4 linked regions of the Homo sapiens genome follow. The protein of the gene in region 2 purifies or fractionates together with the protein of the main gene of each other region. This does not show direct contact. Each region holds a gene or a part of one and is shown on either strand. Other genes may lie near its edges.

Region 1 (3,500 bases), on a different chromosome or scaffold from region 2:
TCTCACTCCAATGCCTAGGCTGGAGTGCAATGGCACAATCTAGGCTCATTGCAGCCTCCTAAGTAGCTGGAACTACAGGTGCACGCCACCAGAACTGGCTAATTTTTGTATTTTTTGTAGACATGGGGTTTTGCCATGTTGCCCGAGCTAGTCTTGAACTCCTGGACTCAAGCAATCAGCTCTTTTAAATGCTGAGATTAGCCACTGTGTCTGCCTCTCTGAGAACTTTCTTTTCTTGTCTTTTTTGAGGTGAGTCTCGCTCTGTCGCCAGACTGGAGTGCAGTGGTGCGATCTCGGCTCACTGCAACCTCCGCCTCCCGGGTTCAAGCGATTCTGGAGAACTTTCTTATGCCAATCAGCAATCTCTCTCCTGATATGCAGAATGGCATTCATTTGATTACACATGTGCTCCTACTTGAAACTGAAAGCTCCTTGAAAACAGATACCATGCTTTGTCTTTTTATCCCTGGGCACATCATTGCTTAGTACATAATACCTGAAGGCTTATTAGTGTACCATTTCTTCCCCGATTATACTCAGCGTACGAGACAACAGACACGTCTTTTTTTTTTTTTGAGACAGAGTCTCACTCTGTTGCACAGGCTGGAGTGCCGTAGCACGATCTCAGCTCACTGAAATCTCTACCTCCCGACTTCAAGCGATTCTCCTGCATCAGCCTCCCAAAGTGCTGGGATTACAGGCGTGAGCCACCGCACCTGGCCCACACAGGCACTTTTTAGCCCAGAAAAAAGAACCAGGCCAGGCATGGTGGCTCATGCCTATAATCCCAGCAATCTGGGTGGCCAAGGCAGGTGGATCACTTCGAGGTCAGGAGTTTGAGACCAGCCTAGCCAACATGGTGAAACCCCATCTCTACTAAAAATCCAAAAAAAACAGCTGGGTGTGGTGGCAGGCGCCTGTAATCTCAGCTACTCAGGAGGCTGAGGCGGGAGAATCACTTAAACCCAGGACACAGAGGTTGTAGTGAGCAGAGGCTGCATCACTGCATTCCAGCCTGGGCGACAGAGATTCTGCCTCAAAAAAAAAAAAAAAAAAAAAACAACCAGCAGCCCACTGACTAATAGCTCTACATCTTCAGAGATGCAATTCAATCCCACCTCTATATCTTTCCTGAATACTCCAATCTGCAGTGTTCCCCAAACAAACCCCTCTGCACTAGTGTGTCACTGATTGGACACATAGTCACCTACAGCTCATGTACAGTTAGTTAACTTTCAATTCTGTGTGTCTTCAACCCTAATGTGTAAGTTACTTGGGAGCAAAGCCTTCCATAGAATGAAGAAAGTGAGAACAGTGCGCTGGATGGACAGACTCCCTCTGCTGCAGGACGTTACGCACTTTCAAGTTTGTCACTTAAGCAATATATTCCTCCCCAACCGCTCACCTTAAACCTTCGAGCTAGAAATTTATTCTTGATCTCTAAGAAATTGCCACGGTTCATTTCACCCTTGAAAGGCTCATTGAGGATGGCATAGCGTGGGTCATTCTGGATGTCTTGCCACCGGGCATAGCCATGGCTATTGGAAAAGTGCTCAGGAAAAACAAAACAAGGAAAGTAAGAACCTCAAACTAAAAGACCTTCAGAACCTTTCACCAAAAGCCTCAGTACAGATTCAGGCAAAGGATACTTTATAATGCCGGCTAGCAGCCAGTAGTCATGCCGTCGATGCCAGATCTCATAAGTCTTCTTGGTAACTGTGGCTGCCCGCTCTTCATTCTGCCAAAGGGAGTGCAACTCTGAGGAGGAATTTAGGGAAGGTTGGGGGTGGGGGGAAGCAAACATCTGTGAGAATTGAAAAAGCTACTTATTCTTGTCCCCCACCATCCCCTACCCCTGGATCCATTTCATATAATTTGCTTCTGGCTTTCTCCACAGAACCCACTATCAGTTTGGCATTCCCTCATCAAACAGAGGTAAAGAGGTAAAGTCCCTGTACCGTGGTTTCTGACAAGAACCCCAATTTCACATCAGATCCTTCTAACCCTGGTGGGCCCCTCATTTCCATACCAGTAAAACCACCATCTGCAATGTTAAACATGAAACGTTGTTTAATATTTTTCTTCTGTTTCTCATCATTCAGGTCCTTGGGGGTCTCTCCATTCTGAAGCATCACCTCTTTTTTCTCTTCTTCTTCTTTCTTCTCTTCTACAGAATATGGGGAAGAAAAATGTCAGCTCCAGCCAAAGCCCAGCACCATCGCCCTTACCCAGAACACTGTATGCTACAAGAATCCATCCACCTACACCCCTTCTCCACCTGGGTGTCTCTCAGACCCAGAAAATGGTGCCATTGGCCCACTGACAACTAAATGTGGGGACAGGTACAGTCTTTTATCTTGGGATAAAATGGCTAGATGAGTATGGACAGGGAGGCAGGGCAGATACAGTCCTTGCTTCTGGTTTTAGAGTTCTTCTGAACCACAATCAACTTCTCCAAACACCCACCTTTGTCTTCTACCACAATAGGGGTCAGATCTATTGCTGACTTTTCCTCCACCTTCTCTACATCAGCAGCACCTAGGGGAAGAAATGTTATTGAGACTATACCTAAAGGAAGAACATTCTCCTCTGTTGCACACTATTATCCAATTGGATAGACCCACATCTAAATGTCTGCAATTACAGTAATGTCAGCTGGGCATGGTGGCTCATGCCTGTAATCCCAGCATCTTGGGAGACAGCAGCAGGCAGATCACTTGAGGTCAGGAGTTCAAGACCAGCCTGGCCAACAAGGTGAACCCCAATCTCTATTAAAAATACAAAAATTAGCTGGGTGCGGTGGCTCATGCCTGTAATCCCAGCACTTGGGGAGGCCAAGGTGGGTGGATCACCTGAGGTGAGGAGTTAGAAACCAGCCTGGCCAACATGGTGAAACCCTGTCTCTACTAAAAGTACAAAAATTAGCCAGGCGTGGTGGCTCACACCTGTAATCCCAGCACTATGGGAGGCCGAGATGGGTGGATCTCTTGAGGTCAGGAGTTCATGACCAGCCTGGCCAACATGGTGAAACCCCATCTCTACTAAAATACAAAAATTAGCCGGGCGTGGTGGCGCATGCCTGTAATCCCAGCTACTCAGGAGGCTGAGGCAGGAGAATTGTTTGAACCCAGGAGGTGGAGGTTGCAGTGAGCCAAGATCACACCACTGCACTGCACATCAGCCTGGGCGACGGAGCAAGACTCCATCTCAAAAAAAAAAAAAACAACAACAAAAAAAACAATTAGCCAGGCATGGTGGCTACTCAGCAGACTGAGGCAGGAGAATCACTTGAACCCAGGAGGCGGAGGTTGCAGTGAGCCAAGATCGTGCCACTGCACTCCAGCCTGGGTGACAGAGTAAGACTCCGTCTCAAAAAAAAAAAAAAAAAAAATTTTGGCCAGGCGTGGTGGCTCACGCCTGTAATCCCCGCACTTTGGGAGGCCAAAGCGGGCGGATCACGAGGTCAGGAGGTGGAGACCATCCTAGCTAACACGGTGAAA
Region 2 (5,428 bases):
AACTTTTTTTACTGTGTATTACTATATTCAACGTCCCAGATATAACAATATTTTGTATTTTCACCACTGTTTATGGTATTCTCAGAATGCGATAAATCAGGGACTTGGGTAATAAAATGTTTCTGGAAAATTCATTACAATGTCAATCTTTGATTATGCACAATCCTGCTGAGGTGAATGTGATTGTGAAAAGTACTTATTAAATGTGGAAGTTAGTGTAGAGGGCAGTACCCGTCTTAGAGAGAAGTACAGAAAACCACGTTTTGAAATTGAATTTAAAAAAGAAAGGAAAATTGTGTAACTCGGCTGTTTCTATTTTCATAATTAAAAACTTTTGAGAGTCCTTGCCAGTTTTGTAACAAAGAGACCAACAATCATTAATGAAAACCTTGTAAATTATTTTAGATTTTCAGGAACACCATGCCATTCCCTCATTTTCTACTTGTCATTCAGGTTGATTTCAATGTGAAAATGTTTTGTGAACAAACACTTATTTTTATCCTATGTGTTAGCCTCGCTTCATAGTTAAAAAGCCGAGTTATAAAGCTCTTAATTACATCTCAATTGGTATCAGCAATAGACCTAAAGGAGAGGTATTGATTGTTACTAACCTCTGTTTCCTAATGAGTTAAAGTAATGTCACTCATGACATAGATTGATAACAGGCCTGTAGTCAAAACTTACTGTGCTAATGGACTTATTTATATTTTTTAAAAATTCAAACTGTGGTCTTGAACCCCAATTCTCAGCTTATTAATTATAGATTATTTAATTGTATTAGGGATATGTCATGTTATATTTACTTTTGGATAAAACTTGCATTAGATGCATAATAACTCAGTAAGTTTTAAAAACAATGTTAATTTTTCCTTGTTTAGAAGTTAAGCACCTTATCAAGATATTAAGTTTTAAAATCTTGTTTTATAACTTTGTAACTTGAGAGTAATGGATGCTGTAGTGATGTCTTTCACATATGTGAAGATGAACAATAAAATTGTTTATTTACAAGTAATGGCTCTAATTACTTTTCTGGCAACACCTTTTATAATAAGGTTAGGAATACTATCCATTTATGAAGTACCTTTTCAAATAATTAATCTGCACTTATACACATTTATAATGAGTAAATTCAATAATAGAAATGATGACAACTGAATGAATGGGACACTTGACACCAGGCCTTTTATGTGGTATGTCCAACATGCTGTCTATAGAGCATTGAAGGTGCCCTACTTAATACCAAATATGCACTTTTCTTCCCCAGCAAAATTTGACTTGTATCTCAGTGGGAACAGAATTATTTATTTATTTAGTCCCCAGAAAATGATCGTTCATATTCCAGAGAACTGCAGACAGCAGACCTGATAGTTATTCTCCACAAGATATGGAAGTAAAAAGATTTCTTGGGGACAAGCATGTTGTTTATAGTGCTAGCAGTCTGATTCTTTATAAAGGCCTATGGTAGAATAGATTTTCAAAAAATGCATATTATATATTTTGCTCTCAGATAAGTATATCAGAAAGAGATAGAAGTATTGCAGAACCATAGATTGCAAATTCATCCAATGTAGTTATTTTCTCTTGTTTTGAAAAATGGACACATTCACACATATTTTAACATATGTAGGAAATTTTACAGCCAAATGAATAAAAATGATCTTTTATGAAAGAACTGACAAAGTTCTAATTTTTTTTTAAAAGTATCAGTTGGCAGGAAGAAGGTAAAAACTCTCATCTAAGAATGCGACGTATTTTGTTTTTAAATCCAATGTTTTTAACTTACACTTTATCTCTTTGGTTTTTTTTTTGTTGTTGTTGCTTGTTTTGTATTGTTTTTTAGTCTTTTAACTCTATATTGCTGGTGGCTCTGATTTCATGATGCATTGTGCTTATGAAACTCTAGCTTTCAGCACTAAAATGAGTTAAAGATAATGTTTTGTTAATTTGGTCATTGTTTTTCCTGTTCAGATCTTTCTTTAAAGGGAATCTGTCTACTTAGACCTTTACATTCAACTTAAAAGAAAAGATTTTATAAGAAAACATCTAAAATCAAAAGCTTAAATGTATTCCTCTAATCCTTTAAAACATGAAAATGCTGTTTATTTTTCGAATTATTGTCATTGGCAATTATGGTTCCTAAAGGGGTATATTTCTATTTAATACTGAAAATATTTGTCCAGTAAGATAACATTTTATGTTCCGAAAATATTATGAATAATATATTTTAAAAAATGAATTTAGACTGAAAGTTGACAGCATCCCTTTAAAGACAGCCTATTCAACTTTTAGTTAATAATTTGTGGGGTTCTTTTTGGTTTTTCATTTGTAATAGAAATGTTATATGTTGCTTAACAATGTTTCTGGATACTAAAGTTGCTTAACAGTCAAAATAGAATACAAGAACAAAAATGAAGAAGCCAAAATAAAAATATCAATTTTTTATTATTTATTCAGGCGATTTCACCTAAACCTCAAAGTCAGAAAAAAAATGAAGCTGACATTAGCAGTTCTGCCAACACTCAGAAACCTGCACTGTTATCCTCAACTTTGTCTTCAGGGAAGGCTCGCAGCAAGAAATGCAAACATGAATCTGGAGATTCTTCTGGGTGTATAAAACCCCCTAAATCACCACTTTCCCCAGAATTAATACAAGTCGAGGATTTGACGCTTGTATCTCAGCTTTCTTCTTCAGTGATAAATAAAACTAGTGAGCACAGATTTTTAAAAAATAGTTATTTATCCTATAAGATACATTAAAAACAGTTTGATTGTAGTTATATTGTATTTTTATGAAGTTGCTTTTTAAAAACTCAAGTGGATATGATAGGGAAGGCTTGAAACTATTTCAGGGGCAAAAACCATAGACATTTCTTACTGATTTATTGCTTAGAGACTACTGCTGGTTGAGAATCCTTTCCATTTAATAACACAGATTCCACTGTAGTTTGACTCTCCTCAACTCATAATCCAAGCATACTGAGAGGCCTGATTCATTACAAAAAAAAAAAGTTATAAAAAGACCCAGGATAGCTATTTTTACTTAAGACTATTCCTGTAGATTTTTTGTCCCCACTTGTCTATAACTTTCCTCTGCAATACATTTTATTCATTCTTATTATAATATTTATAGTCTAGACTTCAGTTTAATCTTTTTAATGAAAAAAAAATGCCCCCATGATTGTATTTTTAAAGATTTTACTGTTTCAGTACTTCTAATTTTTCAAGAGTTAACGCAGTCTTTTTCGAAAACACCTTTCACATGGGTATATCTATCTATCTCCCTATATATCTGTATATATAAATAATACAAGATTTGTGTTGACCCTGAGTTTCTCATATTAGTTTAGTATCCTAAGTTGGAGACATGAATAACAGTTATTTGAAAAGTCAGTTGGTAAATGATGGTTTTTTTTGCTCTTTATGCAAAAAATGAAATACATGATCAGTTGAGTGAATATGACATGTTTCCTTATTCCATATTGTGTCTTCCAGAATAATCAAAGATGTTGGCATTCAGAAGACTTTTATCAAACTTATTAACCTATTTTCCTTCAGTTGCCATATTTTCTACTGAATCATTTTTTCATTTTGATCAGGTTTTGCTTTTTCTTTTTAATAGGTGGAAAGAATGGGAACATAATTCAATTGTTTTCCTAATAAGCTTCATTTCATTATGGCATTTATCATGAAATAGTGTCAGTAGTAGTCACTGGAATGTCATATGACATTAATAAACATTTTATTTTGGAAATTATATCTTGGTATTATAACCACAATATTATAGCAATTAAATTTTATTCTTTCATATTTTTAAGTTATCAGCATGTCTTTTTCGTTTTGATTGTAAAATTACTCTTAAATACCCAAACATCAATGTCTTTAGACTGTTCTTATTTCCTCTTTCTAAATTAACATGAATATATTGGCATATATAATCTTGCCTATTCTAGTCAAATGTGTTTGTATGCCATGTAGAAAGAAGATATCTAAAAGTGTGAGAGACATTTCCAAATATTTATATTATATTGCTAGAAGATGCCTAAATTACTTACCAAGTTGTTAAAAAACACAAGTACACAATGTCATAATCTTAAATATCCTCATTATTTGCTCACAATAAGTATACAAAGTTGTTTTTGTTCATTTTTTTTTTTTAATGAATCAGGCCCAGACATGTTTATAAAACTCCATTTGGGGGGGATGATGATGGGATAAAATTATTTACATTAGTGTAAAGTAAATCACTAACTCTATAATGTTGTATCATCTTTGTCCCTGCCTTTTTTTCCCTTAGAGTTTCTAGATTTGCAATGTAGCAAAAGGAATACATATATATATATTTTTCCTTATCTTTTGCTGTAAAGAGACTATTTTCCCGAAGGAAAAATGGCAATTTACACAACGATCTGCAATTAGAGAAATTAACTGTAGTCTGTCACTTGGGGGAGCTACTTGAAATTAATGTTCCATTTTATTTTCTTTTAGTTCTAGTAGAGTGTAGATTTTACAATTTTTGATTGACTCATTTTGAATGAGGGCACAATTTTTGCCTTTGATTACCTTTGGAACATGCCATTCCTTGTGGATATCTTATAACAACATCAGAGGGAAGAATATAAATCATTTTTTCCCATTTATCTCCTTAAATATTGTAAGATGCTCCTGGTATGTATCTGCTTCGTGAACATTGAAGATCTTTTTCTAGGTCCTCCACAGCCTGTGAATCCCCCTAGACCTTTCAAGCATAGTGAGCGGAGAAGAAGATCTCAGCGTTTAGCCACCTTACCCATGCCTGATGATTCTGTAGAAAAGGTTTCTTCTCCCTCTCCAGCCACTGATGGGAAAGTATTCTCCATCAGTTCTCAAAATCAGCAAGAATCTTCAGTACCAGAGGGTAATGTATATTGATTTCCTATAGAACCAAACATAAAAGAAGATAAAGAAAAAACTAAGAGATAAAGATTATTAAAATATTAAGATATTTCTGCTCTTATATCTTCTGGAGTTATAAGCACTTCACTTATTCTACAAATATTTATTGAGTGCCTTCTTTGTGCCAGGCACTGTTTAAATTATGTAACACTTTAATTCACAGTGATAGTAACTGAGCCATTTTATCTGTGTTAATATTACATTACACTCTTTATTTTGTGTAGTGCCTGATGTTGCACATTTGCCACTTGAGAAGCTGGGACCCTGTCTCCCTCTTGACTTAAGTCGTGGTTCAGAAGTTACAGCACCGGTAGCCTCAGATTCCTCTTACCGTAATGAATGTCCCAGGGCAGAAAAAGAGGATACACAGATGCTTCCAAATCCTTCTTCCAAAGCAATAGCTGATGGAAGAGGAGCTCCAGCAGCAGCAGGTAAAAGAAAAAAAATAAAGGCTCCTATAAGTAGATAAGTAGCTAGGCTTGCAGTTATTAGGTAT
Region 3 (3,500 bases), on a different chromosome or scaffold from region 2:
AGGCAGGAGAATCGCTTGAACCTGGGAGGCGGAGGTTGTAGTGAGCCAAGATCGTACCACTGTATTCCAGCCTGGGCGACAGAGTGAGACTCCGTCTCAAAAAATAATAATAATAATAATAATAATATAAATAAATAAATAAAAAGGCTTGATTTAAATTTACAAACCAACCTTCCCATCTCTTGTGGCCACAGTTCTTGGAGCCCTGCATTCTGGGTGGGCTGGGAGGCCCCTTGCGTGTGCACCCCAGCCCCGGGTTGAGAGGCCACTGTGTGCCTGTGTGTGCAACAGCCTCCGTCCAGCCTTGCACCCTGGCCTCACCTATGGGGCCCTGCAGCCCTTCCCCCTCCCCGTCCCAGCAGCTCCCCGCACCCGGGGAGGAGAGGCGCGGCCCGGCGCGCCGTGGGACCCCGTCTCAGAAAGGCCACACTTCCTCCCTGTAGGCGAGGAGGATGGCCGAGACCAGTCCAGGTTGGAGACCCAGGTGTGGGAGGCGCACAACCCACTCACAGACAAGCAGATCGACCAGTTCCTGGTGGTGGCCCGGTGAGTCCTGCTCCTGGGCAAGGCCAGCAGGGGTGGTGCCTGGAGCTTCTGTTCTCCCTTCCCTGTGGTGGGTGTTGGGGACGTGACAGTCTTGGATCCCATATCCCAACAAGAAGCCCATGCGCTGCAGCCCTGAGACCCCCGGTAGCAGTTCCCAGAGAGGCTCGGGAGTGCTGGGTCCAGGCCCTTCATTAAATAGAAGGGCGGCCCTTCTGGGGGGCAGGCCTGTGTGCCTGCCCATGTGTCCCTAATGGGGCTTTCCCAGGATGGGCCAGAGGTGCTTTCCCACTCCTGGGCCACTGGGAGCAAGTGGGCTGGGCCTGGTCATGGAGCAGAGCAGCTGCAGCCCGGGCAGACCCCTGGGGCAGGGCGAAGGCCGAGGCCCAGGAGAGGACCATGCACCTTCCCTGCCAGCAGCCTGGGAGGTGGAGAAAACCCCAAAAGAAGCCCCAAGGCGGCTGCCAATCTATCGGGATGCCCTCAGTTAGACGCACACGGGTTCTGGGGTGGGTGCCGGGCCCTACTCCGCAGCCTGGGGCCCAGGACACGAGGAGTCCTCGCCACCTGCGGGCTGCTCCCTGCGATGCTCATGCAGTCTGTCCCTGGTCCCTGGCGCCTGGGGAGCTGTGTGCCTGGGGGGAGTCCGCGCTGCCCGTGGCCCCTGGTCCCTGGTCCCTGGGGAGCTGTGTGCCTGGGGGGAGTCCGTGCTGCCCATGGCCCCTGGTCCCTGGCACCTGGGGAGCTGTGTGCCTGGGGGGAGTCCGCGCTGCCCGTGGCCCCTGGTCCCTGGTCCCTAGGGAGCTGTGTGCCTGGGGGGAGTCCGTGCTGCCCATGGCCCCTGGTCCCTGGCGCCTGGGGAGCTGTGTGCCTGGGGGCAGTCCGTGCTGCCCATGGCCCCTGGTCCCTGGTCCCTGGGGAGCTGTGTGCCTGGGGGGAGTCCGTGCTGCCCGTGGCCCCTGGTCCCTGGTCCCTGGGGAGCTGTGTGCCTGGGGGGAGTCCGTGCTGCCCATGGCCCCTGGTCCCTGGCGCCTGGGGAGCTGTGTGCCTGGGGGGAGTCCGTGCTGCCCATGGCCCCTGGTCCCTGGTCCCTGGGGAGCTGTGTGCCTGGGGGGAGTCCGTGCTGCCCGTGGCCCCTGGTCCCTGGCGCCTGGGGAGCTGTGTGCCTGGGGGCAGTCCGTGCTGCCCATGGCCCCTGGTCCCTGGCACCTGGGGAGCTGTGTGCCTGGGGGGAGTCCGCGCTGCCCGTGGCCCCTGGTCCCTGGTCCCTGGGGAGCTGTGTGCCTGGGGGGAGTCCGTGCTGCCCATGGCCCCTGGTCCCTGGCGCCTGGGGAGCTGTGTGCCTGGGGGCAGTCCGTGCTGCCCATGGCCCCTGGTCCCTGGTCCCTGGGGAGCTGTGTGCCTGGGGGGAGTCCGTGCTGCCCGTGGCCCCTGGTCCCTGGTCCCTGGGGAGCTGTGTGCCTGGGGGGAGTCCGTGCTGCCCATGGCCCCTGGTCCCTGGCGCCTGGGGAGCTGTGTGCCTGGGGGGAGTCCGTGCTGCCCGTGGCCCCTGGTCCCTGGCGCCTGGGGAGCTGTGTGCCTGGGGGAAGTCCGTGCTGCCCATGGCCCCTGGTCCCTGGCACCTGGGGAGCTGTGTGCCTGGGGGAAGTCCGTGCTGCCCATGGCCCCTGGTCCCTGGCACCTGGGGAGCGGTGTGCGTGGGGGAAGTCCGTGCTGCCCATGGCCCCTGGTCCCTGGCACCTGGGGAGCTGTGTGCCTGGGGGAAGTCCGTGCTGCCCATGGCCCCTGGTCCCTGGCACCTGGGGAGTGGTGTGCCTGGGGGAAGTCCGTGCTGCCCATGGCCCCTGGTCCCTGGCACCTGGGGAGTGGTGTGCCTTGGGGGAGTCCGTGCTGCCCGTGGCCGCTGGTCCCTGGCGCCTGGGGAGCGGTGTGCCTGTGGGGAGTCCCTGCTTGGCCGACACTGTGGTCAGCGCATCTCCTTTCCCCAGCTCTGTGGGCACCTTCGCACGGGCCCTGGACTGCAGCAGCTCCGTCCGACAGCCCAGCCTGCACATGAGCGCCGCAGCTGCCTCCCGAGACATCACCCTGGTAAGTGGGCCCAGGGCGGGACAGGTGAGACCTGGGGTGGCCCATGGCCCAGAGTGGCTGCGCCCTTCTTCCTACCAGGGCCCAGCACCTGCCCCAGGTATTCAGGACCCCTGCAGAGGTGCTGTCCCACCTGGACTGGCCTTTCCTATCCACCCCAAACTCGGCCAGACTGTGCTGAGGGTGCAGGGAGGGTTGTGCTGCTGGGCCTGCAGTAGGGGATCCTTGAGGTACTGAGGGAGGGGGTACCGTGCCACAGGTGCAGGAAAAGCCACCTTGGCCCGGGTGACCCTGCTGTCTCCTGCCGCAGTTCCACGCCATGGATACTCTCCACAAGAACATCTACGACATCTCCAAGGCCATCTCGGCGCTGGTGCCGCAGGGCGGGCCCGTGCTCTGCAGGGACGAGATGGAGGAGTGGTCTGCATCAGAGGCCAACCTTTTCGAGGAAGCCCTGGAAAAATATGGGAAGGATTTCACGGACATTCAGCAAGATTTTGTGAGTACCGTGGGTGGCGATGGGGGAGTGGCTGGCCATGCCCATCTCCAGGTAGGCTGCGGGGGTGTGGGCTCCACATCCCACTCTGCCCTGAGGGAGCCTGTCCTGCACCCTGATTCCCTGTGCGGAGCTGCATGAGTTCTGTCTCAGCTGCGCTCGGCCGCCATAGTCCTTCCTGTCACACTGGTTCAGCAGACAGGCATGGGGGCGCTGGTGGGGCCTGGGCATAGAGAGCCATGCTCCTGCCACCATTGCGTGATGAGGATAAGGGTTGGCCCAGGTGACGGAGGCCAGGGTATCCTCACGGAGACTTTCCCTTCCTTGCTGCCCCCTCCAGCCCCAGGCTTGGTTTTGCTTTGTTTTTGACTAAGCT
Region 4 (3,500 bases), on a different chromosome or scaffold from region 2:
AAAATTGTGTCTGTACTGAAAAGGTACAGATTTTTCTTTTCATTATTCTCTAAACAATACAGCATACTATTTTTATAGCATTTACATTGCATTAGGTATTATCAGTAATCTGGAGATGATTTAAAGTATATGGGATTTAAAGCATACACATAGGTTATATGCAAATACTATGCCATTTTATATTAGGGACATGAGCAACAATAGCTTTTGCTATCTATGGGAGGTCCTGGAACCAATCCCCACTGCAGATACTGCAGATACTGAGAGCCTGCTGTTATCTGGCCTATCTTCTTTCTTTTTTTTTTTTTGAGACGAAGTCTTGCTGCGACGCCCAGGCTTGAGTGCAATGGCTTGATCTCCGCTCACTGGAACCTCCGCTTCCCAGTTCAAGTGATTCTCCTGCCTCAGAGTAGCTGGAACTATAGGCACATGCCACCACGCCCAGTTAATTTTTGTATTTTTAGTAGGGATAGGGTTTCACCTTATTGGCCAGGATGGTCTCGAACTCCTGACCTCAAGTGATCCACCCGCCTCAGCCGCCTCCCCAAGTGCTGGGATTATAGGTGAGCGCCACTGTGCCTGGCCTATCTTCTTTTACATAAATCCAGAGTCTTTGAAAAAACTTGGCAATGAGAGAGCCTCAGGGGTTAGCATAGTGCTATACACAAAATTTTTACTCAATAAATGGTAAAAATTTCAAGTGATCCAGGCCTAAGTTAACATTCTCCAGACACAGAAATATTGAAGTGCTCACCAAGTCCTGAATCTCTGAGTTCAGATTTTCTATCAGAATTAGTTTAGACTCTTTTTTATAAATACTTTGGTTATCTGAAACCCTTTGCTGCTGGATAACTGAGTATGTGAGGGACACTACACACCTATTTAGATAAAATTTGTGGGTTACGGGGGTAAAGAAAGTCGAAGAGCAAAGAGACCATTTGGAAAAGATTGATTTGTAACAGCAAAGAGAGAACAATGTGAATTCCTACCTGATCACAGGAGCCTAGTGAGTCCATTTTATGAGCTTGGAAGTTTCCTGATCTAGGCTCTGAAGGAACTTCCTAAGTTGCCTCTGCAATACCCTCACCCAGGCTTAGCCTGTGTAGTGTAATGGTAAAAGAGCTGGCTCTACAGTCAGGCTGCCTGAGTTTGAATCATAATTATAACCCTCACAAGTTGCCTTGACAGTTTTCATGCATATAAAATGAAATCCACAGTACCAACCTACATCTCAAAAGGCATTATAACATGTAACACATGTAAATCACTGATCACTGGTATGTAGTAAGTGTTCAATAAACATTACAGTTGCAGACTTTTACATTTACCATTACATTACATTGTAATTATTATACAAAAAGGACCCTTTGAGTAGGTCCATAGCAGCTACAGGTATGTATGTTCCAAGAGGGCACACTTGAGGAATTAAAATATTAGAATGAAATTAAAGGAAATGTGTCTGGAATAGCTGTGCAAACTGCTTCCAGATGGAGTGTGGTATCGTAAAATCTGGTGTGTGCATGCCAAATGTCCTGCCATGGGGGCCTGCTGGATCTGTAATTCTGCTCTGTATACCTAAAAAGCATGGACTCTGCCTTCTCCCTTCCCTTCTCTTCTGGTACCCTCACGCCTAGTGTTTATTCTTAGTACTTCACCTCCACTCACCCAGAGAGTAAAACCAAGGAAATCAAACACTGCTTCCAACGCCCATGGGAATCTCCCCTCTACCCACCCCTCCTCTCTTGTTCACTTCTTGGGCCAACAGGATTAGGGCCACGGAACTGTTGAGTCCTGTGTGAAACTTAGTCCAACAGATCTTGAATAGTCACAGATCACCTTAAGAGTTTGTCCCTGCATCAAGCTTTCTATGGATGGCTCAGCATAAATCCATCTCTGCTATGAAAAACAACTCAAGAAAAACAACAGAAGGTCAAGTACCATGACTTTGACTTAAAAATGGTACAGACATACATACATATGTCATGATGAGCTGAGATCCTATAAATGCCCTGGGCTTTATAACCCACCCTCACACTGTCCTCTGGAGCCACTTGAGTGAGCTGTGACCTGCAGAGGGGGTGTCCGGCCAACCCCACACAGGTACTTACCGATGTGCTGGCTGTAACCTGTGAGCTAGAGCTGGCGGGTGCAGGGGAATCTGAGGAGGTGGAGAGCTGTCGCACCAAGGGACTGTGTGGAGGATGGTGGGTGGCTGCCAAGTAGCTCGAACTGCTCATGTCTGTGTGATGCTTCAACACTGCAGAAGTCAACAGAAAAGAGAGAAATACATGGCTATCTTAACCAGCGTTACTTCTAACACAAGCTTGGAATGGCAGCAATACATACTAAAGGCAAAAATGTTTTCTATGCCTAGAGGATAAAAAGGTGAAGCACACTAGCTGTGGGAAGTAGGGGCAGGGCAGAGGTTGCTGTAGCAGTTAAGAAGTGACCTCCATTTAGAAGCAGTAGCGTCCCTCTACTCTGCTTTCCTAGAAAGTGAAGGACAAAGCTGGGGGTAATTAAGAGAAGCCTAGGCTGCCCCAGAAAGCCCTGAGCAGGTGCAGTTGCAGGTAGAGGTGCCATGGGCCTGGCCCTACCTTCACTTCTCTCAGATGAATGGTCTCGCAATCTCATTTTGCTGTGGTTTGGGTCATGCACGGGTGGTGGTGGGTTGAGCAAGCGCTCTGCTTTTGGCGCTGTCACTCGCTCCACCATGGGCACGGCCCCCACATCGTCTAAGTGCTGCCTGTGGGTCCTGTCAGGCCGGGTTTGGTGATGGGACAGCTCTGAAGAGGGGAACAGAAAAAGAGCTGTGAAATATGTCCTCTCAAATATTTTCTTATTCGAGTTCCAAGCTCTCGAGTTCTCTCTAGGCCAACGCCGTATACCCAGGGCAGCAGGACAGTCCTTCAGGACTGAAGTTTCTAGTAATTTGCACAATGGCTAGGATAGGCACAGGGAGCCCAGAACCAGAGAAACATGTCACCAGGATACAGAAGACACCTGCCCGTAGATGAACTCAATGCCATGCCATTGCTGGCTGTTCACTGAGCATTTTGGGTCTTGCTCCAAGATCCATGGTGTCTAGAATAGCTCCCGAAGTCCATCTGAGAGCATCCAAGACAAGCAGAAGCAGTCACTGTGAGCTGAATTTTTTATCGGTCAACTGCCTCTCCCAACCCCAACATGCATGCAAACTACAAATTTGAGAATATAAAAGGAATGAAAAGTCACTGATACTCTGGGGGACTTCCCGGCTCCCTGACACTTACTGGCTGTTGTTAGGAAGGAGCTGACCAATTTGTGCCTGTCCTTACGAGCTGAATCTGGCAGACTGCCCGGCATGGGTGCTCTGTGCTTAAGCGATAACTTTTTGGGAGGTTTGATTTTGTCAAAAGGCTTGTTCTGCCACTGAGATTTCAGCATGCTCTGGAAATGCAGGCTTGTGGGAACATCTGCAAGAAACATAAAATGCTACAGGTTAGTCCAAACACCTGGCC

What was found. The genes of interacting proteins can lie anywhere in the genome.
Region 1: the proteins of PHF20L1 (region 2) and CHD4 purify together in Homo sapiens (affinity purification with mass spectrometry; 2 studies listed by BioGRID and IntAct, with this or other methods). This does not show direct contact.
Region 3: the proteins of PHF20L1 (region 2) and MTA1 purify together in Homo sapiens (affinity purification with mass spectrometry; 2 studies listed by BioGRID and IntAct, with this or other methods). This does not show direct contact.
Region 4: the proteins of PHF20L1 (region 2) and KANSL1 purify together in Homo sapiens (affinity purification with mass spectrometry; 3 studies listed by BioGRID and IntAct, with this or other methods). This does not show direct contact.

Annotation. Positions count from the first base shown.
Region 1 is NC_000012.12:6,576,380-6,579,879, forward strand, and holds part of CHD4 (chromodomain-helicase-DNA-binding protein 4), read right to left. Parts: intron 2,539-3,500; coding exon 2,467-2,538; intron 2,343-2,466; exon of another isoform or gene 2,174-2,342; intron 2,168-2,173; coding exon 2,030-2,167; intron 1,759-2,029; coding exon 1,650-1,758; intron 1,539-1,649; coding exon 1,406-1,538; intron 1-1,405. UniProt on the Homo sapiens protein: ATP-dependent chromatin-remodeling factor that binds and distorts nucleosomal DNA. Acts as a component of the histone deacetylase NuRD complex which participates in the remodeling of chromatin.
Region 2 is NC_000008.11:132,812,183-132,817,610, forward strand, and holds part of PHF20L1 (PHD finger protein 20-like protein 1), read left to right. Parts: exon of another isoform or gene 1-1,008; intron 1,009-2,454; coding exon 2,455-2,707; intron 2,708-4,705; coding exon 4,706-4,894; intron 4,895-5,156; coding exon 5,157-5,363; intron 5,364-5,428.
Region 3 is NC_000014.9:105,457,827-105,461,326, forward strand, and holds part of MTA1 (metastasis-associated protein MTA1), read left to right. Parts: intron 1-443; coding exon 444-546; intron 547-2,531; coding exon 2,532-2,631; intron 2,632-2,938; coding exon 2,939-3,127; intron 3,128-3,500. UniProt on the Homo sapiens protein: Transcriptional coregulator which can act as both a transcriptional corepressor and coactivator. Acts as a component of the histone deacetylase NuRD complex which participates in the remodeling of chromatin.
Region 4 is NC_000017.11:46,036,430-46,039,929, forward strand, and holds part of KANSL1 (KAT8 regulatory NSL complex subunit 1), read right to left. Parts: intron 3,456-3,500; coding exon 3,273-3,455; intron 2,787-3,272; coding exon 2,598-2,786; intron 2,258-2,597; coding exon 2,109-2,257; intron 1-2,108. UniProt on the Homo sapiens protein: Non-catalytic component of the NSL histone acetyltransferase complex, a multiprotein complex that mediates histone H4 acetylation at 'Lys-5'- and 'Lys-8' (H4K5ac and H4K8ac) at transcription start sites and promotes transcription initiation.